4 linked regions of the Homo sapiens genome follow. The protein of the gene in region 2 interacts with the protein of the main gene of each other region in a biochemical or structural test. Each region holds a gene or a part of one and is shown on either strand. Other genes may lie near its edges.

Region 1 (5,005 bases), on a different chromosome or scaffold from region 2:
AGAAGGGCGGGGGAAGGAACAAGTGGGGAGGGAGAGATGAAGGTACAAGGTACCCTCTCCTGTCTCTCACATGCACACTACTGCAGGTGGTTACAACTCTTTTCTGTTTCTCCACAGCTGAGCAGGAAACTGGGAGAAGAGCCCTTCTCCCCTGCAGCCTCTCCCTCTTGGCCTCCATCACCACTCTCCTAACCCCTGCCAAGCCCTGCATCTGATCCTACCTGAGCTAAAGAAGCAGAAGGTCCGGAGGGAGCCTGTGATTTTTGCCTCGGTCACCTCTTACAAATGCGGTGGGCTGCTGGGCTCGCCCTAACCCTGCATCACCCCCAGGCTGCTCCTTCAGTCTACTCGGGTATGGAAAGGGTTAAGCTCCTCCCATCCCCTCCTTCCTTCATCCCATTTCTCCATTCACTTCTATTTTCCCATATGCCTAGTGCCAAGCTCACAGTTACAACCACTTACACCCTGTATTAAGATGCATGGAATAGTAATGGGTAAATTCCGTCTCTAATTGCAATATTTCCTAATTACTAAATTCCAGAGCCACTGTATCAACCCAATTATGGCAAGTCCTGCCAGAGTTCTCCATGGTCTGAGGACTCCCTGCCTTACTGAGAGGCACCTGACAAATGCCTCGGGGGAGCTTTCCTGACTCCCCACCCAGCTGCTGTCCTCCCCTGGTCCCAGACTGTCCAGTGATGAGGCCCTTGGGCTTCTAGTTTCTCTGCAGGGGATGGGAGGAAGTGAAGCAAGCTTTGTGATTGAGGAAAGCCTTGTGTTGACAGGCGACTATCCTGGGGTTGGAGAGCATCTGGGAGCCCTGTCACTCTGCACCAGCCACCATCAATGCTCCCAGCTTCAGAACTCCACTTTGGGGGCTAGGGGGACCCAGGAGAGGAGGAGAAACAACATGCCCTGGCCTTGGGGAGCGCCCAGGCTGATAGAGGAGACACGGTTATTTTGAGTTCTCCTTTACATCCCAGGTGCCTTTTACAGAGTAGGTGCTTAGTGCATTGGAGTGGAACGTGGAGGAAAAGGCGGGAGGAAAGTAGGAAGTAAGGAAGGAATGGGGTGCTCTGGCTCAGGCTGAGTTTAGACTCTGGCTACACCTGCACGCAAGGGTTGACTTTTGGGCTGTGAGTCCCATAGGGATCTGACTTCTCAGGTCTGGAGTCTCCGAAGGAGAGAAGCAGTCACACACCCACTAACTCCCATTCTCCCTGCCTTTGCAAGGGGCCCTCCTCCCCAGCCCACCCCTAGGACCCTGAATACACACATATGCACACACACACGGCTGCTGGGCTTCAGAGGAGCCGTTTAATTGCCGAGTTGAAACCTGCAAGGGCTTTTGGTGCTGATGACATCAGCATGCCATCACAGATAGGGCTGCTGAGGCTGGAGCAGCTCTGGATTCAGCGGGGTGTCCCATCATGCACTCAAGACTGCCCACCCTGGGGCCTCCCTCCTTGCTTCAGAGCAGGTGTTCCTGAAGGAGGTGCCAGAGCCCTTATGGAGAGCCCAAGGAAACCCAACATCAGGGAGGGAGAGCTGATTCAATTCCTCCAAGGAATCACTGCCTAATTTTTGTAAAGGCTGCTGCCTGATTTAAATCACCCAGCCTCCTGCTTCTACTCAACGCGTTAGTGGCCTCATCCCAAGGACCCGCACCTGTATTCTCGGGCTCCATTTGCCATAGGTAGAGCTGGTGAGAAGCGGCGAGGAGAGGAGGAAGGGTTCTGACCACTCAGCTGCTGTGGCCTGGAAGGCCCCCTGCAAAGTGCCTATGATCTGGGGATTTTGAACAACCACACAACTTCTCTGGGGATTTTGAACCACACAACTTCTCTGGGCCTTTGCCCGTTCATTGTAAAGTGGGGACAGCGATGGCGTAGCCGAGGACTGCAGTGATGAGAGCTTGACCGCCCTTGTGAGCCGCTCTATCCCCGAGCAGGGGAGCAGGAGGCGCAGGGAGGAGCCCTGAGGTTCCCTGTTGTGCGGGACCCACACTGACTTTGCCCTTTCTTATGCCTGATGCTTAGTGTTACTGACAGCAAAAGCTGAAATCCTGAGGTCCCCGGCTAAAGTGACCAAGGAAGGGCCTCTCCTGACTTTACAGCAGCAGGTAACCCCCCTTTCTTTCAGATTTGGAGGCTGCTTGGCCATTTTAATGGACCCTGCTACTCACATCCTACTTCCCTAAGTGTGAGGGGCTTTCAGAATCTAACCTCCTCCCTGGCACTCAGCCAGCAGGGACTTTATCCTCATCAGAAAATGATCCAGGGAGGAAGCTTCTACAATATCTACTGCTCATCTTGGATTTTGGGAGTCCTTTTTTTTTTTTTGAGACCGGATCTCACTGTTTTCCAGGCTGAAGTGAAGTGGCATGACCATAGCTCACTGCAGTCTCGACCTCCTGGGCTCAGGCGATCCTCCTGCTTAACCTGGTGTGCCACCATGCCCAGCTAATTTTTAAATTTTTTGTAGAGACAGGGTCTCCATATGTTGCCCAGCCTGCTCTGGAATTCCTGGGCTCAAGCGATCCTTCTACCTCAGCCTCCCAAAGCGCTGGGATTACAGGTGTGAGCCACTGCACCTGGCCTGGGGAGTCCTTCTGGATGTTTAATTTTAGACCCAGCCTCTCTAGGGGAGGGGGCTGGCAGCTAGGTGTTCCCCTGCCCTCCAGGCTCACAGTGACTCTCAGGTCCCTCTGGGCCTGGATCCAAATTTACCCATCACTCTGGCTACTTCCTTGAACTGTCAGTTCCAGAGATGAAAATGAAGGATTGCTGGGACAAATCCTTCCCAGAAATCAAGCTTTGGCAAGAAAAGACTCATTAGGCATAAAAACCGTCTTCGAGTGAGGGGGATGAAATGCAGGACTGACCACCAAGACGGTGAGGGCAACTCCTTCCCTTGAGTTTTAAGAATATCAAAGGTGGACAGTGCTCCCTGCAGCTGGAGAACCCAAGACAGTGTTGTGTGTGTGGGCAGGAAAAGGAGCACGCAGGCCACCCAAGGATGAAAAGCACTTACTCCTCCCGCGCCAGGCACTGTTCTACACGCTTTACAGGAATTAACCCATTTCATCCTCACCAAGAACAATCTACGTCATAGTTACAAATTTTAGCTCCATTCTACAGATGGCAAGACTAAAAAACAGAGTGTGATTGACTCGCCCAAAATCACAGCAAGTGGCAGAACCAGGATGAACCCTGGCAATCTGGCTGTAGTCACTATACTGCCACTTAGAAAAAAATCTCTGACTTGATGTTTCTCCAATGAAACTATATTATTTATCACAGGCTTCTGGAGTCCAGGAGAAGCCATAACTGAATCCCAGCTTCTCTGGCCTGGCTTCTCTGACTGAGTGGAAGATGAAGAATCAACTTGTTGCCTATGGATGGATTATTCACGTAGGGAATTTAGAACTGCATCTGTCTGGTGGTCCAGGGGCTACTTCTAAAATAACACGAATAGTTATCAGTTCTACAATACTACCCTGAGAGTTAAGCATTATTACCTCTGTTCTTTAGAGAAAACTGTGCAGACATTGTCAGATCATCCTGTTACATGCTCTCGAAGCTTCCTACATACCTTCATAACTCTTGGCACAGTCATGATGAATTCTTTATGTAATTATCTAATTGTGTGGTATTCACTAGATTGTAAATGCCACGAGGGCAGGAAACAGGTCTGTTTTGTTCCCACCTGAATCTCCATTGCCTAGCACAGATTCTCAAAATGCAATAGTGGAACGAATGCAGAAGGGATGCTGAGTGGCTCAGTAACATGTGTAGGGCCTGCGGCTGTGCTCACCTCCCCACCCAGAGAGACTACAATAGTGGCACATGGTAGGTACTCACTAATAAAATACTTGTTGCAAATGTCAGACTTTGTACTTAGCAGCCCTGGGATTTGAACCCAGGCCTGTCTATCTCCTAGCCTCCATTCTTTGGTGCTTCATATTTAACCACTGCACTGAGTGACCCTGCCCCCCCATTACTCCCTCTGACTTGCTGTTCCAGTTCTTAAAGAGTATCCCCACCACCCTGGACCTTCAGTGGTGGGGATACTCTGGCTTCAGCTAGGACCTGCCTAGACTGGGGAAGTCCACAGAGCAAATCCCAAAGCCAAGTGAAGTAGTGTTTCTACTCATCTGCAGCCTTAAGTCCTCCACGAGGATGCTTCTGTCCAGGGAAGGGAATGATGGTCATTCTTCCAGGCAAATGAAGCCCAACCTCCTCCCACTCTGTCCTCACTGCCTTCTGTCCCCCTGCTTCCAGTGCACTCACTGCCCCTCTATCTACTCTCCCCTGAGAGGGCGGCACAGGCCTGGCGGGGAAGAAAAAGGAGACCCCATTGAGATATGATAATGTTCAGATGGAGGCAGAAAGAATGACTAGAGGTCAGGCTTGCCTAGGGGCTGGGGAACACTGGGGTAGCCTGGTCCCCAGGGCTTGAGAAGGGCAAGGAAGAGGCTTCTCCAGCCACCTCCAAAGCCCACCCCCAGGTCTCTGCAGTATCATAGACAGCCCTGTCACACCTGCCTGGAAGCTGCCTAAGGGTAGAAGGAATAAAACGAGCTCCAGCTGCAATGTGAGGGCAGGTGAGCCCAGACCCAGCTCCAGAAAGGGTCTCCTCGGCCCTGCGAGGTCTTCAGCAAGGTACATGCTTTGCCCAGGTGAAACCAGCTTCAGTCCTAAATTGAAGCCAGTTGCAAGCTTCTCTAGGTGAAAAGTCAATGTTTACGAACACCAACACTTTTTGCTTCCCCTGGTCCTGTTCTGCGGATGTCAGACCCCAAAGCTGAAAAAGAAATGTTCCTGCATAATCACCCCCTTCCCCCAAAAGAAAACCCAAGTTCCCTGGACCAAGCTCCTGGACTGCAGAACAAAGCAGACTCCCAGCAGAGTGGTCTGGTCTCTCTTCCTCCAGGGAATGGTGGGCCAGGTCTATGTGAGGCTATAACCTAGAAACTTTCCTCTGCCTCCCTCTCCTCCTCCTT
Region 2 (5,005 bases):
TATAAAGATGTCTAGTGAAGGAAAGAGATGATTTTTCATTTTGATATTTAAGTAGTATCTTAGATAAATCCTTTGATCCACTTGTATTTGCTAGTTATTTCATCTAATTTTCCTGGAATGGTTGCTTACTTGCAGAGGGTCTTACAGACGTCATTTTATACCACCAACCGGATGACAAGAAAAAAAACAGAGGCTTTTGCTTTCTTGAATATGAAGATCACAAAACAGCTGCCCAGGCAAGGCGTAGGTTAATGAGTGGTAAAGTCAAGGTCTGGGGGAATGTTGGAACTGTTGAATGGGCTGATCCTATAGAAGATCCTGATCCTGAGGTTATGGCAAAGGTAATGATAGTCAAGTTAAAAATATTTTTTGAGGGATTAATGGGAGAAGGGCCGGGGTTGGGGTGGGGGGAACATAAAATGAACAGTATACATTTTTTTATTTTTTGAGACAAGAGTCTCTTGTTTCCCATGTTTCCCAGGCTGGAGTGCCATGGTGCCATCTTGGTTCACTGCAACCTCCGCCTCCCGGGTTCAAGTGATTCTCCTGCCTCCCAAGTAGCTGGAATTACAGGCTCCCACCACCACACCTGGCTAATTTTTGTGTTTTTTTTAGTAGAGCTGGGGTTTCACCATGTTGGTCAGACTGGTCTCGAACTCCTGACCTCGGGATCCACCTACCTCGGCCTTCCAAAGTGCTGGGATTTAGAGGCGTGAGGCTATTGCACCTGGCCCTGGACACATTTTTTTTTAAACCATATTTTTAGAGTTGGGAGAAATGTTCTTTACTACGGGACTAGGCAGTGCGCACTGGAAATACCATGTGCCTGCAAAGTGAAAATAGAAATTGATGCGTGGATACTTAGCCATAATTGTATAGCCATCACAATCTTGTAATGAAGTCGCCTACATGCTGTAGACAGTTGACTTCCATTTTGTGTGTTTTTTAAGAGCAATTTGAGTTTTTGAGAATGGCACCATTAGTTTACATGGTTTTGGGGTTAAAAGTCTTACTACTAAAAACAGTAAATTATACTGGCCGCAGCAGAGGTGCTTGCAGTTACATTTAGCCATTATTAGGTATCCTGACTTCAGCAGTCAGTGGAGACATTGTATAAGAATAAACATCCCTTGAGTCAACACTTTATTACACACTGGTGCAGTAATTTGCAGTTATTTGTTCTATCCTTTGTTCTCTTTTTTTTTTTTTTTTTTTAAGTGACAGGGTCTAGATCTGTGGCCCAGGGCTAGAGTTCAGGGGCATGATCATAGCTGACTGTAGCCCCAAGCTCAAGAGATCTTCTCACCTCAGCCTCCCAAGTAGCTAGAACTACAGGTGTGTACTACCACACCTGGCTAATTTTTTTAAAAAATTTTGTAGAGGCAGAGTTAATCTCCCTGTGCTGCCCAGGCCGGTCTTACAATTCTTAGCCTTAAGCAATCCTGCTTCCCAAAATGCTGGGATTACAGGCATGAGCCACCATGCCCCAGTTATCCTTTGTCTTTTAAGAATTCCCTCTTTGTTACTTACAGGTTAGGTGTCAGACACCACTAGTTGAGTTAAATTGAGGGTAATATGAACTGCCAGGGAGCTATGAATATTATTGAAGGATAAGTGGTCTTAGAGAAGAGAAAATAGTTAGGATTCATTTTTCCTCTGGCCTATAAATTCTCATTGGGTTAGCACTTTAGATTAACACATTCAGATGGTATTCAAGTTATTTTAGGAGGAAGTGATAATGTTAGTGAAGAGGTTAAATTTTGTAATTTTACTTTGAGAAGCTTTCAGGATTGAGAACAGTTTGTCTTACTAATATTTTGAACAGTCCTTCCCCCTTTAAGATTTCAAAAGCAGGTCCTAATTAGTTTTGGCCACTCTTGTTAAGTGTTAAACATTCAATAACTCTCTTAGAGGGCATGGTATTTACTTTGTTAGGAAAAATTATCTTTTTTATTGCAAAATAATTACTAATTGGTAATTATTACTGATGTAGCCTGTAGTCTGCATTTTCTTTTTCATAGACTTCATTAGAGCAGTTTTAGGTTTACAGCAGAAAGCACAGAATTGCCATATGACTTCTGCCCCCTACACAGGCACAGCCTTCCTCACTACCAGTATCCTGCACTGGAATAGTACATTTGTTAAAATTGATGGACGTAGATTGATTACCTAAAGTCCATAGTTTACATGAGGTCTCACTCTAGATGTATGTTCTGTGGGTTTGGAGAAATGTATAACCGTGTTTCCATCATAGTATTATACAGAATAGTTTCACTGCCCTAAAAATCCTCTGTCCTGTGCTTAGTCATCCCTCCCCATTCAACCACTGGCAGTCACTGTCTCCATAGTTTTGCCTTCTCAGAATGTTACATAGTTGGAACCATACATTATGTAACCTTCACATTGGCTTCTTTCTCTTAGTAATACATATTTAAAGTTCTTCTATGTCATTTTGTGGCTTTTAACTAGTTTCTATCAGTTATAATATTCCTTCTGTATGTGCCACAATTGTCCATTCTCCCATTGAAGAACATCTTGGTTTCTTCCAATTTTTGGAAATTTTTTTGTTTTTCTTTTGAGACAGAGTCTCGCTGTGTTACCCAGGATGGAGTGCAGTGGCACGATCTCGGCTTACTGCAACCTCTGCCTCTTGGGTTCAACCATTTCTCATGCTTCAGCCTCCCGAGTAGCTGGAACCATAGTTGCGTACCATCGCACCCGGCTAATCTTTGTATTTTTGTAGAGACGGGGTGTTACTGTGTTGGCCAGGCTGGTCTCGAGCTCCTGACCTCAGGTGATCTGCCCGCCTCAGCCTCCCAAATTGCTGGGATTACGGGTGTGAGCCACTGCGTCTGGCAAATTTTTGGCAGTTACAAATAAAGCTGCTATTAACATCTCTCTCTAAGTTTTTGTGTGCATGTAAGTTTTCAACTCTGGGTAAATAAGGAGCAGGATTGCTGGGTCATATGGAAGTGTGTGTTTAGTTTTGTAAGAAATCGCCAAACTGTCTTTCAAAGGGGCTATACCCTTTTGCATTCCCACCAGCAATGAATGAGAGTTTCTATTGCTCTGCATTCTTACCTGCATTTATAGTGTGTTGGATTTTGGCCATTCTAATAGTTTTGACTTGCGGTTTCCGAATGACAGATTATATTGAGCATCTTCATGAGATTCTTTGCCATCTGTATATCTTTTTTGGCAAAGCATCTATTTCAGGTCTTTCAACATGATCCAGCAGTTCTGCTGCTTGATATTTACCCAAGGAGTTGAAAACTTTTTTTTTTTTTATATTCTGACATTCTTCTAATGGATTGTGATTTGAGTTAACTTTGTAGGGTGGGGTGGTGGTATCTTAGAAATGGAACTCTTTGGAAATAATACAGGGGGGTATTTTCTTCCCCCTAGGTAAAAGTGCTGTTTGTACGCAACCTTGCCAATACTGTAACAGAAGAGATTTTAGAAAAGGCATTTAGTCAGTTTGGGAAACTGGAACGAGTGAAGAAGTTAAAAGATTATGCGTTCATTCATTTTGATGAGCGAGATGGTGCTGTCAAGGTAAATATGGTGGAATTACAGGCATCTAAATCAGACTAACAAATTTAGTCATTTTAGAATCTCAAAATAGTTTTACAAATTGGAGGAGACTTTGGAAGTCCATGGAATCCATTCAAACTAAAACCTTTTGGTTTTAGTGATGTTGGCAGTTTTCTAAGTAAAAATGAAAAATAATTGAATATCTGCATCTTTAAATAAAATTATTTGACTGCCTGCATGGGGCTTTCTCTTGTCCTTCCCACATTAATGATAAATGATATTCCAACTTTAAATGAATCATAATTGTATGAAAGTCCTATTTTTATATTGACTTATCTAATTTTTTAAGGCTATGGAAGAAATGAATGGCAAAGACTTGGAGGGAGAAAATATTGAAATTGTTTTTGCCAAGCCACCAGATCAGAAAAGGAAAGAAAGAAAAGCTCAGAGGCAAGCAGCAAAAAATCAAATGTGAGTGAAATTTGTATACTTAAAAATTGTATAAATTTTAATATTTATACACTAATTGGAAAATAACAGGTGTTGATCAGACTTGTTAAATGCATAACATCTCTTTAAAGAAGACTTGAACGTTTGAGAGTCATAGGGAAACACCAGTGATCTAAGTGTTTATTGAACTCTTACTATGAACCATATTTGTGAAAATAATCAGAATTGTAAATAACTGGAATTTTGGTAAATTGGCAAGATGAAAAATCTGTCTAGCTTTTTTTTTGTTTTGTATTGGGTGACAGAGTCTCACTTTGTCACTCAGGCTGGAGTGCAGTGGCACTCTTTCGGCTCACTGGAACCTCCACCTCCCGGGTTCAAGAGATTCTCCTGCCTCAGTCTTCTGAGTAGCTGGGTTACAGGCGCCACCATGCCTGGTAATTTTTGTGTTTTTTTTTTTAGTAGGGGTGGGGTTTCGTCATGTTGGCCAGGTTGGTCTCAAACTCCTGACCTCAGGTGATCCGCCCACCTCTGCCTCCCAAAGTGCTGGGATTACAGCTGTGAGCCACCATGCCTGGCCTATCTCACATATTTTCTTTGTATTTTACAGAATGTTCTTCTGAAAATGTCTTAAATATTAGCTGTCCAAATATCTTAATACATTTTGTTAAAGGGTGGAGAGTTTTTTCTCTGAGAGATAGGAAATACTAAATCTCTATTCATGATAGACTGTTTCTTCACCAGTAGTGCTCATTGCCACCCCAAAAATTTCATGTTCGATGGATGGATTTTGAAAATGAAATGAGTATTAAAATTATAACACAGTAGTGCAATAAGAAAACAAGTAGGTGTGTAATGAGTTATACTAATTAGGGAGACCTTTTTAGAGAATCTGTAAATAGGTATCTGCTTAAGACTGAAGGAAACTTAGTTGGGTAAGAATTGAAGTTAGCTCCTAAAAAGTTAGTTACTGATTTCCTAGAAGAGGGGTAATTGTTCTTGAATGTGAGAGCAATAATCA
Region 3 (5,591 bases), on a different chromosome or scaffold from region 2:
AAGAAAGTAATGTGAAAGTTGAACCATTTTAACAGTGAAAAAATCATTCTGAAGTAAATACTGCCGCCTGCACAGAATGGTCTGTGTTTGCCAAAGCAAGAACTTGTTTGAGGCTGTGTGTTTTGGGTGGTGAAAAAGTGGTTACCTAGCAACAACTCCTCCTCCCAAGTCTCCCCTGCTAGAGCGGTATTTTGCACGTCAGTAAATTGGTTACTTGTTTGATGGATCTAAAAAGAATAATTCAGTAATGTGGTAGGGTGTGAATCTCAATCATAAAAACGTACAGGTTTTTCTCTGTGTGGGGTCTGTCTACTGCCCACTCCTCATCTGGTGTTGCTAGAAGCTTGTCTAAAGAGATTGAATAATACCTAAAATGTTATTCATCAAATGAAAATGAGGGAAACTTCAGGCATTTTAATTAATAACAGTTCTTTTCAGTTTGCTTATAAAGCAAGCAATGAAATAGTTACTTAGTCCACAATAGCATTAGCTCTGGGCAAGAGGTAATCTTATCACGATGTTTCCTCAGATGTCAGACAGCAAAGGATGGGGTGGGTTCCGTAGAAATAGAGTTTAAACAATCTGTACAGTTTACAGATAACAACATTATACCATCTGAAGGTAAAATTAATGAGATACTAATTTATAGAACAAACACATAAGGTATTTATGTTTACAACAAATGAGCTTAAACATATGTTAGCAATAACTTAGCTAGAAAATATATACTTTAGTAAACATCACACCATGTATTTGGTCCACCTATGATATGCATCACAAATAAATGCCACTTATTCTTTAACCTAATGGATATTTGTTTCTAGGGACAACCCTACAGGGTGCATGCATGCATAATTAAGGAAATAGGTAATCTGAATAAAGTGAAATGATAAAGACACAACCACAGACTCTGCCAGCAGAAAAATTAAATACAGCAAATTAGTTTGTGTGTTTTCAAAGCATGAAGATATAAAGTTTAAAAAAATCTGTTAGAGGAACACTCCAATGCCAAGTATGTGGGAGCAAATAGAATAGCAAAGAAAAAAGACTGGTTTATAAAATTTTCCATGATGCAAAGAACTGAAGCCAATTTCTCCCCAGACAGAGCCCTGATGCTCTGGGCTGCTGCTAGCCAATGTGCAGGGACCTGTCACTTGCACAGTAGCTTTCTGAGACTCACCCTGTATCCCTTCTCCCACATCCCAGCACACACTGAATGCCATTTCCTTATTAACTCCAGAGCAAAGAAATTCTTTGCAGAGCAATAATTGACAGTTGGAGTTACAGCTTGACTTCTTTCCTTTGAAAAATTGCTAAGCATTTGTTTTAGAAAGGCACACTCTTCAGATTCCAATGAATCAGAATCCGACACCATATTTTTCACAGTTTTTCACCTCCGAGAATATCATCAGTTTAGAAAAAGGAATGCTTTCCTTTGAAATAACCAATGTTACCAATGTTACTTTAGATGTTGGCCTGATTTTGGAAACTATTTTGTACAAACGTACTAGAAGTCAGGCCTTTTAACCATAAATGTCATTTCAGAAGCGCCTTATTATTTGCAAAAGTCATAACTGAGAGTGACTCTGAATATCCAAGGAATTATCCCCATCTGTTCCTAAGTGCTTTAACTGGTCAAATGTCAGATATTAAAGGGAAGAGAGCTGAGAGACCAGGAAAGATCAACTGTTCCAGCAAAATATTTAGACTAATAATTTATTAGAACATAAAGGATTATACTGGGAAAACTATCTTATATCAAATGCATCAATTTGTAGTGAATCTTTTCTAAATGTAATAAGTATCATAGGTATAACATGTCAAAGAAAAAAATTAAAAAGCAAGAAAACATGTTTTTGCATGTTAAAAAGAGTAATTTGAAGCAGAAACTTCTCCTCTGTAAGTTACGTTATTCTGAAAACTCAGAAACATATTTTTATTCATCTAGGTGATCAGGAGATTTTATATTAGGAACTGACAGGGATCAGTTTCGGGGCTTATCTCGGTGAGCCTCTGAGCCCCCACAAAACAGCAAAGCTAATCTCTAGTGGTCCAACAGTTAAAATAATTGATGAGCATGTGTTGAATCCTCAAGAGAGGAGGGAGGAAGCAAGAAGGAAAGCTTGAAGGGAGGAGGGGAGGGGGGCAGGTGCTGATTTCAGCCCTGTAGCGTCAGGATTGCGTCAATTCGGGTTCCAGCCACGTCTGGAGTCTCGGAGACGAGCTTCTCAGAAGAGCCAAAACAGGAACCGAGGTGGCAAATCACTGTGCGAGGGCGAGTGGACCTCCCTCTTTGCCTCCTCCCTGTTCCAGGAGCTGGTGCCCTGGGCTCTGCGCTGTTGTTTTCAGCGCTCCGAAAGCCGGCGCTTGAGATCCAGGCAAGTGAATCCAGCCAGGCAGTTTTCCCTTCAGCACCTCGGACAGAACACGCAGTAAAAAATGGCTCCGATCACCACCAGCCGGGAAGAATTTGGTAAGCAAGTTACTGAACTTATGACTGCGGTTATTCCTTGAATACTCTGGGGTGGACTGTTTATTCATTTATTTTTTGCCCGGTTGTTGAATACAGATTTCCTAGGTAGTTAATTTAAAAGGAAAATGAGAATGGCAGTCAGGCAATTGTGGCTTATTTCTGCAGCTTCTCTCCCTTCCTTGGTATCTCTCTCCCTGAAACTGTCTTCTGTTAGGGAGAATTTACCTTCAGGAAGTTCTTAAATTTTCAGGTACTTCTGTAAATTGCAGCATGTACTGAGTAAAGAAAAAGGGGTCTGTTTTTCCCATGTTGGTTTCATCTATTTTGTAGGTGATTCTTATTTGTAGGTAAATCTATATTTTATTAGGAGAAGATAAATATATCTCTGGTTACATTGGGGTTTGATCTTGGTTAAAAAAAGCAACTTGTCTATTGGGGTTTGGCAATGTATATTTTATTACAGGGCGTACCATATGGGTGTTTTTCTCTGCTATGTTTTTCTTGTATCCTTGAAATATGTTGCTAGTGAAAGACAGAATCATATGGTAGCAGGGTTAAAGAGAGTTTCAAAATGAACTGGCTCAGCCCATTTCATTTCACTGCTGAGCTAACCAAAGCCCAGAGAGATGAGGGAAGTATTATAGGTTGCACAATTAGCTAAAAGCTGCTGGAAACTTGAATTAGGGCTCCAATTTTCCCGTTCAGTTTTCCTTTTCTCACACCAAGTTTTTGGTTTCAGTACATAAAATTAGACGTACTTCATAGAGTAAAAAAGTACTATTTTTAGATCTCAGTATATTCCAAAGGAAAAAGGTCAGAATTTTACTTACACGTATTTTTTAAATCATGAAATTTCATAGAAGGTTGTGAAGAGGAGTGATATCTACAGATGTGTGATAATTGTTATTAAGCTGAGTAAAATAACTATGATCTTGACTTTCAAGATTGTAAGACCTTATCAGTAGAGAATACATAGGGAGTAGATAAGTGTTTCCACGTTATAGAAAATGTTTGCCATTTGACATAACTATTCAATAGGGACAATTTGTGATATTATGTTCATAAATGAATTTCTTTCCCAGCCTTCCATTTGGGTTATTGGGTTTATTTTGGTATGACATTTATTCCCAATTCTTCATTTGAAACCTGAATGATTTTCTAATATGGAGGAATTTTTAGAGACTGTGCCAGTGAAAATATGTTCTAGCATGGACTATCAGTCTACTTTTAAAAAATGATTTTCTACTGTTTTTATTGTTTTTACATTGGCTAAAGAACTCTCTCAGTTCATGACTTTGCTTTTGCTCCCTGGCCTTGGGTTATTATGGTCCAGGAATGTGGGTGCATTTTTTTTTCACAAAGACTTGAATAGAAGGAAAAACTGAAAAGCTGATACCAAGTTTAGCTGATTATCTTTAGCTCTTGCTTTATACTGTAGTAGTCACTGTTTCTTTTTTCCACCTGGAGAAGTCAAAGGTTTATTTCATCTTTACATGATTCAGTTTCTGTACATTAAAATACAGGATTTTTATTGCGATTTTATTGGCCTTTTTATCTTCTATTTCATTTGTCTTTTCTTAACCTTACATTCTCTGAGTTCAGTTTTATAATTGTGAAGTAGATTGGCAGAAGATTTGGGGGGATGGGGAAGGGAAGTAACAAAAGACTGGATTTCTTGTGGTTATTTAGAAAAGTTTTAACCCTTTCTGGGCTGGAACTTATAACTTTATTATTTACTATTCAGGATAAAAGCATATTGCAATGGAACTAAATGTATATAATATTACATTAGTTATTTTCACTTTGATGATATTAAGCATTGACTCTATGGATTCACTATGTATAGATGTAGTAATACTGCTTTTACTTCCATAGTGTTACTAACCATTTGTTCAAGAAAGATGCTTACATATAAAATAGGATAAGCCTTATGCATAATTGATATTACCTAATGTCAGTAATTTAATGTGCCATCATTCAAGAAAATAATGACAATTTCAGTTTGATTATCATTTGCCATGCCATGTGCTAGAGGAAGAGACAGTTATAGATAAAATTGAACTCTAAATCTCACTGTTCTCATTACATGTTAAAGAATGCTGATTCACTTATAACCATTGTTCTGTTTTTATCTTATTTAAGTTTAATTAATTTATACTTTGTATAATTCAGTGTTTGACTGAGAAATTTGGGATTGTCATACAAAGGGATGATAGTGTTATAAGTTACAAAATATCGGTACCTTGTTGCTCTTCTGTTTTTGTTTTACTTTCTCTAATATATGTATATTTCTTTTACCACTGTTCCATAATTGGGATGAAAATTATTAATGAGTTTGTGGCAATGGCAAATATCATTTCACAATCAATTTCCTACAATTGAGTGAACCACTGAGTCCCTAAATGTTTGCTGCTTGAATTCTGAGTAAAGAACTACTTAGAATTCCAGTAAAAAGTGATGCTCTGGAAAGCCTCAAAATGACAATAAAAAATAATGAAGTTAGTACTGATCCATCATATTGTAGCTGTCTCATGTTATCTGAGAAAACAAAGATAGGTCAGAGTCATTAAGCATTCCCCCATATCTGATTCAGGACCATTTTCATCTTTTTATTTCATTAATGAAAAACCACTGAAATGAAGGAATTTCTAGCACACTTTATGTTTTTCCTGTGGGGATGTATTTGTACCCGAAGTTAGTGTGAAATATACACTTAACTCATACCCAGAACAGTTGGAAAGTAATTCAATCTATCCAACCTATAGCAATTGCTAGCTCTATTAGGCTTTTCAAAAGGCTCATATCTCCAGCTCTGCTTCTTTAATGTATATTATTGGTCATTTGATTTTTCAGATGAAATCCCCACAGTGGTGGGGATCTTCAGTGCATTTGGCCTGGTCTTCACAGTCTCTCTCTTTGCATGGATCTGCTGTCAGAGAAAATCATCCAAGTCTAACAAGACTCCTCCATACAAGTTTGTGCATGTGCTTAAGGGAGTTGATATTTACCCTGAAAACCTAAATAGCAAAAAGAAGTTTGGAGCAGATGATAAAAATGAAGTAAAGAATAAGCCAGCTGTGCCAAAGAATTCATTGCATCTGGATCTTGAAAAGAGAGA
Region 4 (5,005 bases), on a different chromosome or scaffold from region 2:
TTTTACTGATGAGAAAATGAGGACACAGAGGTTAAATAACTTGTCCAGGAACACACAGCTAATAAGAGGTAATAAAATGCTAAGTTTACAAAAAAGTAGAAAGTAAATTTAGCCTACAAATAATTACAAATGGTAAAACATATACATGTTTGTGGACCACGGCTGAAAGGAAACATGGGCAGGTGATACTACCAACAACATCAATTTATTGATCATTTATTTGAGCATTTACTCTGGGCACAATGTTACAGCAATCTTCCACTCCCATTTTATAGATGAATAAAATGAAGAGTTAAATATTTTACTCAAGGTCACTAAGGTAGTAAGTGCAGTCAGATTCTAACTCCAAAGTCCTTGCTTATTCCACTTTGTCATCTTGATGTCCTAGAAGATTTTTTTTTCTTTCAAGTGCAGTTCTATCAATGTTGATTTAAAGTTTTTGTGTGATAAAATACATGTGCAAGGCCATATGAAGATTTCAAAGAGATCTGCAAAGCCTGGTCCTCAGGATTTGATGTGGTCTAAAGCCCTTCCTAGAGCCCACCAAATAAACATTTGAAAGAAAAGGAAGTCGTGATGCACATTTATTGCTCCAAGATTGCAGTGAAAACTGAAAACTTCTCCACAAATGGTGATTTTATTCAAACTTCATTCAGAAAATAGAAATACATACTCCATACTTGTCCTTTTAAAAGTGAGATTGCTCCCCCATTTATGCCTCTCACTAAGCTCCTCCACTTTCTCTATACACTTTGGAGTGTGAACTTGTTAGTTCCCTCAAGTCAACCTGTTAGGAAGAGATTATGAATGTTTTTAAGCCAACCATATGGGAAATTGCACTTGCAGCACAAACATAAAAGTGCCTCAATGCTACTTCAGTGAAAGCAACATCTATGCTCTATACATAATAGAAAATTTGAGGATGATTTCCTTTAGGTGTCAGTTTAATTTTTCCTTGAGAGTTTATCCCACATCAAAAAGTTTGTGCTTTTGATTGTTTATTTTGAAAGAGGCAGCTGGCCATAGGGCTGCCTGTGATGCCTTTACTACAATTTGCTTTTGTTTTCCCCTCTTGATAATTACCTCATGACTAAACCACTCACTGGTCCATGTAGAGGAGTCCCGCAGAGATGAAAACACACTTGTTTAAATAAAATATTTATGAAGGAGCCCTGAAATGTCACCGAAGTAAATGCAAATTAGATCTTCACATATTGTGCATCCAATATGCCACTCATTCCTTAGAAGACTCTTTTTCCTGATTGCAATTAACATTAATTTAAAAAAATTAATCCCATTGTGCATAATCACACCAAGGTCTATTCATAAACATCCAGTGTTTCAAGACTGATTCTCTTTTGACTACCTTAGAAAAATTTGAATCAAGGCTAATATTTAATCTTGATGATTATTTTGGAGATTTTTTTCATAGAAACTATATTTAATTATTATTTTACATGTACATTTTCTAATAAGTGACTTCATTATAATTTAACATAGGGTGACATTTGTGAAGGTTCTATATTCTGACCTTTTAATGACACACTATTTAGACAAGATTTTTCTTGATTTGTTTGTTTTTTCCCCTCTCAGATTGGTGGACATAATAGAGCCTTATGATATGTTCAATGAGCCCTTAAAAGAAAAATGTAGGATAACGTTGGGAAAAGAAAGTTAAGAATCAGTTGATATGGGCACTAGCTGTACAGGGTAACAGTCAAGGTTCCTAGTTTTTGATACTATCTTTCCTAATTTTGCAAGAAACAAATGTGAGCTGAGCTGAGAAGGGTTAGGCGGATGCATTCTTTGCCCAATGGTCTCAAAGGTTGTTCTCTACTTGGCTGCACATTAGAATCAATAGATGAACTTTAAAAATACTGATACCAGGCCCATTTCCCAGAGACTGTGATTTAAAACTGGTCTAGGGTGCAGCCCAGTCATTGGTAGTTTTTGTTGTTGCTGTTGTTTGTTTTTTCTTTGTTTGTTTGTTCCAGCTCCCTAAGTATTCCTAATGTGCAGCCAAAGTTGAAAACCATGACCTAGAAAAAGCTTTTCTTGAATAGAGTAATATTTACATGGAGAGAAGAATCACTAATCATGAGTCTTAAGGCTCTGCTTCATACTCTGACCTGCTGAACCTTTTCTAAACATTGGGTACAGACACAGAGAACATGCAGAAAAATCTCCAGAATATGGAGTTGGAACATGAATGGAAAACCAGTATCCTGGATAACAGAATTCATAATCAAAAATACTAAGCTGAATCTTTACAACTACATAGAATGTGACCTACACTTAGGGATTAAATCCATCATACAAGTACAGAAGAGAGAAAGTAGGTCTAAGGGTGGCTCTTATGAAAAACACCTAGAAAATTTTCATTGACAATAACTCCTCAGTTTTCAGTACATGTGATGTGACTACCTAAGAAGCTACTTTCACTTAGACCCAATTCTTCTTTTAAATGGACTCCATGGCCCTGGGCTAGTTTACTTCTCTGGACTTCAGTTTACTCATATATATCAATCACTTTTAGCCATGGTTCTTGAACTTTAATGTGCCTACAACTCTCACCTGAGGATCCTGTTAATATACAGATTCATATTCAGTGGGTCTGGGACATAACTGAGATCTCCAATTCTAACAAGCTCCCAGCAGCTGCTGCTGCTGCTGGAACACAGATAAGTGCTTAAAAGACTTGTGAGGACTAGTGAAATGACCTACATAAAGTGCTTGGCACAGACATGGTTGGCACCCTACAGAAGAAAAGACTTAAAAAGAAAATGATAAAAACATGTTTAAGACCTAGTCATTACATGATCCAATCCTCCTTTCTGTTCCTTGGAAAGAGTGGATCTAGATAAGTTAGGCTAGTTTACCTCCTAATAGCCAAAGGTGTATGATGGAGAAGAGAGATAAGACTAATGCTTTTTGACCAAAAAAAGTATAATCAAGATCCATGGGTAGAAATTTAAGAGACCTTTTAATTCCCTACAAGGAAAACCTTCTAACAATACATACTGTTCTATAACCAATTAATCTTCTTGACAGCGAAGTCTCCAGTTAAAAAATACGAGCATAGAGCAATTGACATTAAAGAGGATAGTCATACCTCAGGTCACTGTTCAACTGTAAAACAGCTTGGCTATCTAAAGAGGCATCACACACTTAATGTGTTACAAAAAGTTAAAATAAAATAAAAAATAAACCTCATGATTTCCCTCCTCACCCCTACCTTCTTCCTGAAGACTTCTACTTGTACATGGAATTTTTTAGGTCAAAAAGCCTTTGAAGCATCCTTAATTGCCCTTCTCTCACCTTTCACATCTCTTCCTTCAATAAATACTTGCGGCTGTACCTGCAAATTGCATTCATAATCCAATTACTTCTCATCACCTCCATTACCACTATCCCTGTTGAAGTCACTATCACCTCTGTCTGGATTTCTGAAATAGCTTCCTAAGTGGTTTCTCTGACTTCACCTTTGCTCTTCAACATAGCAGTCAAAGTGTTGTCACTTCTCTGCTCAGCACCTTCTAATGGCTTCCTATCTCATTCAGAGTAAAAACCAAAGTCTTTATAATGGTTTACAAGACTCTGCATGATCCACCCTCTCTAACTCTTGACCATACACGTCTTATCACTCTCCATCTGTTTCACACCTCTCCAGCCACCTCTGAAGTCACCATTTCTAGAATCATATCAATAATGCTACCACTTCAGGGCCTTTGCGCTTGCTGTTCCCTCTGCCTTAAAGGCTAGTCTCTGAGGCCTGCAAGTTTATGTCCCACATCATTAACATATAAAACACCATAAAGGCAACCAACAGAGCATTCTAATTGCTTTCTATGGACAAAAGTGCTCACACTCAGCACTTTCCTTTCCACAAGTTGGTACAGATGACAGACTGGGTGAGGCACTTCAGTTCCAACTGTGACTTAGGCTTATTTTTTTAAACCACAATTGCATCAAGTCCTCTGTGAACACCAAGTCAGGGAAATCTGGGTGCGGTACTCCCCCAACAGGGCACTATAACTACCTGGACAAAAAAGAACCTTTCTGATGGCTCAGGCCCGCTGGTCTGTGCCCTAGTCTTTCCACACCTCTGAAAAAATGAGTAAATTTCCTAGATGCAGGGTCACTTTGCTGTCCACAGGAAATTATATCTTTTTTCTCCTTTTATAACCAAAGTCCTTAGTTCAGCTTGAGAAAACCTAGCTATCACAGGGTGGCCGTGAATGGACAATAACAGAGAAAGCTGGGACATGGCATTCAGGTGGATTCCTTTCCAGAAAAAGAAGTCATCCATTTACCGAGATGACTCTCTCTAGGAACCCATGTCTCAGGGCTGCTGTGCATGGTTGTTCTGGTTCACACTATCAACAGCAGGGACATTATTCACACGGCGTTGTGTGGTGCAGCTTTTCTACTACTCAGCTTTTAGGGTTCCGAGATTAAAGACACTCTTGCTTCAGAGGGATGAAGACAAATGCATCTGATGTAAGAATTAATGTCGGCAAGGCAAGGAAGGAGGGAAATGAAGGGAGATTTGGAAATGAAGGGAGAAGTGTCCTGAAGGAGAGGGTGCACTTTGGATGTAATCTTTGGCCTCATTTCCTCTCACCTTGCACTCGAAAACCCCCACCCCTGTCCTCATGAGCTGGCTACTTTCCAACAAAAACCAAAGAGCCACAGGGGCATGGGGCTACTTCAAAACCCTTGTGTCCTAGTTTAAGAAAGCAGAGCACTGCTATCAGGAACTCAGAGCAGCAAGGTCGACTCCTATCTCTAGCTATTCCTCCGCCAAGGAATCAGATTTCCTCTTGTAAGAAGCCTACTTAGTGACTCTTTCTCAGGGGTTGCCTGGTGTAGGGGCTGAAGAGAATCTGAGAACACAGGATCCAGCTCCCGGATTAAAAGGAGTAGAAGCAGAAAACTGGCCAAAAAGATGTGATTCAGAGATAGGCCTCATCCATCTTCTCTTGTAAAGCCAAAGACAACTGCT

The links.
Region 1: the proteins of SYNCRIP (region 2) and SYT2 form a complex in vitro, tested with the Homo sapiens proteins (one study listed by BioGRID).
Region 3: the proteins of SYNCRIP (region 2) and SYT4 form a complex in vitro, tested with the Homo sapiens proteins (one study listed by BioGRID).
Region 4: the proteins of SYNCRIP (region 2) and SYT9 form a complex in vitro, tested with the Homo sapiens proteins (one study listed by BioGRID).

The regions. Positions count from the first base shown.
Region 1 is NC_000001.11:202,703,394-202,708,398, forward strand, and holds part of SYT2 (synaptotagmin-2), read right to left. Parts: intron 1-5,005. UniProt on the Homo sapiens protein: Exhibits calcium-dependent phospholipid and inositol polyphosphate binding properties. May have a regulatory role in the membrane interactions during trafficking of synaptic vesicles at the active zone of the synapse.
Region 2 is NC_000006.12:85,617,818-85,622,822, reverse strand, and holds part of SYNCRIP (heterogeneous nuclear ribonucleoprotein Q), read left to right. Parts: intron 1-135; coding exon 136-341; intron 342-3,405; coding exon 3,406-3,555; intron 3,556-3,883; coding exon 3,884-4,005; intron 4,006-5,005. UniProt on the Homo sapiens protein: Heterogenous nuclear ribonucleoprotein (hnRNP) implicated in mRNA processing mechanisms. Component of the CRD-mediated complex that promotes MYC mRNA stability.
Region 3 is NC_000018.10:43,274,130-43,279,720, reverse strand, and holds the start of SYT4 (synaptotagmin-4), read left to right. Parts: upstream 1-2,230; 5' UTR 2,231-2,439; coding exon 2,440-2,473; intron 2,474-5,326; coding exon 5,327-5,591. UniProt on the Homo sapiens protein: Synaptotagmin family member which does not bind Ca(2+). Involved in neuronal dense core vesicles (DCVs) mobility through its interaction with KIF1A.
Region 4 is NC_000011.10:7,253,960-7,258,964, reverse strand, and holds part of SYT9 (synaptotagmin-9), read right to left. Parts: intron 1-5,005. UniProt on the Homo sapiens protein: May be involved in Ca(2+)-dependent exocytosis of secretory vesicles through Ca(2+) and phospholipid binding to the C2 domain or may serve as Ca(2+) sensors in the process of vesicular trafficking and exocytosis.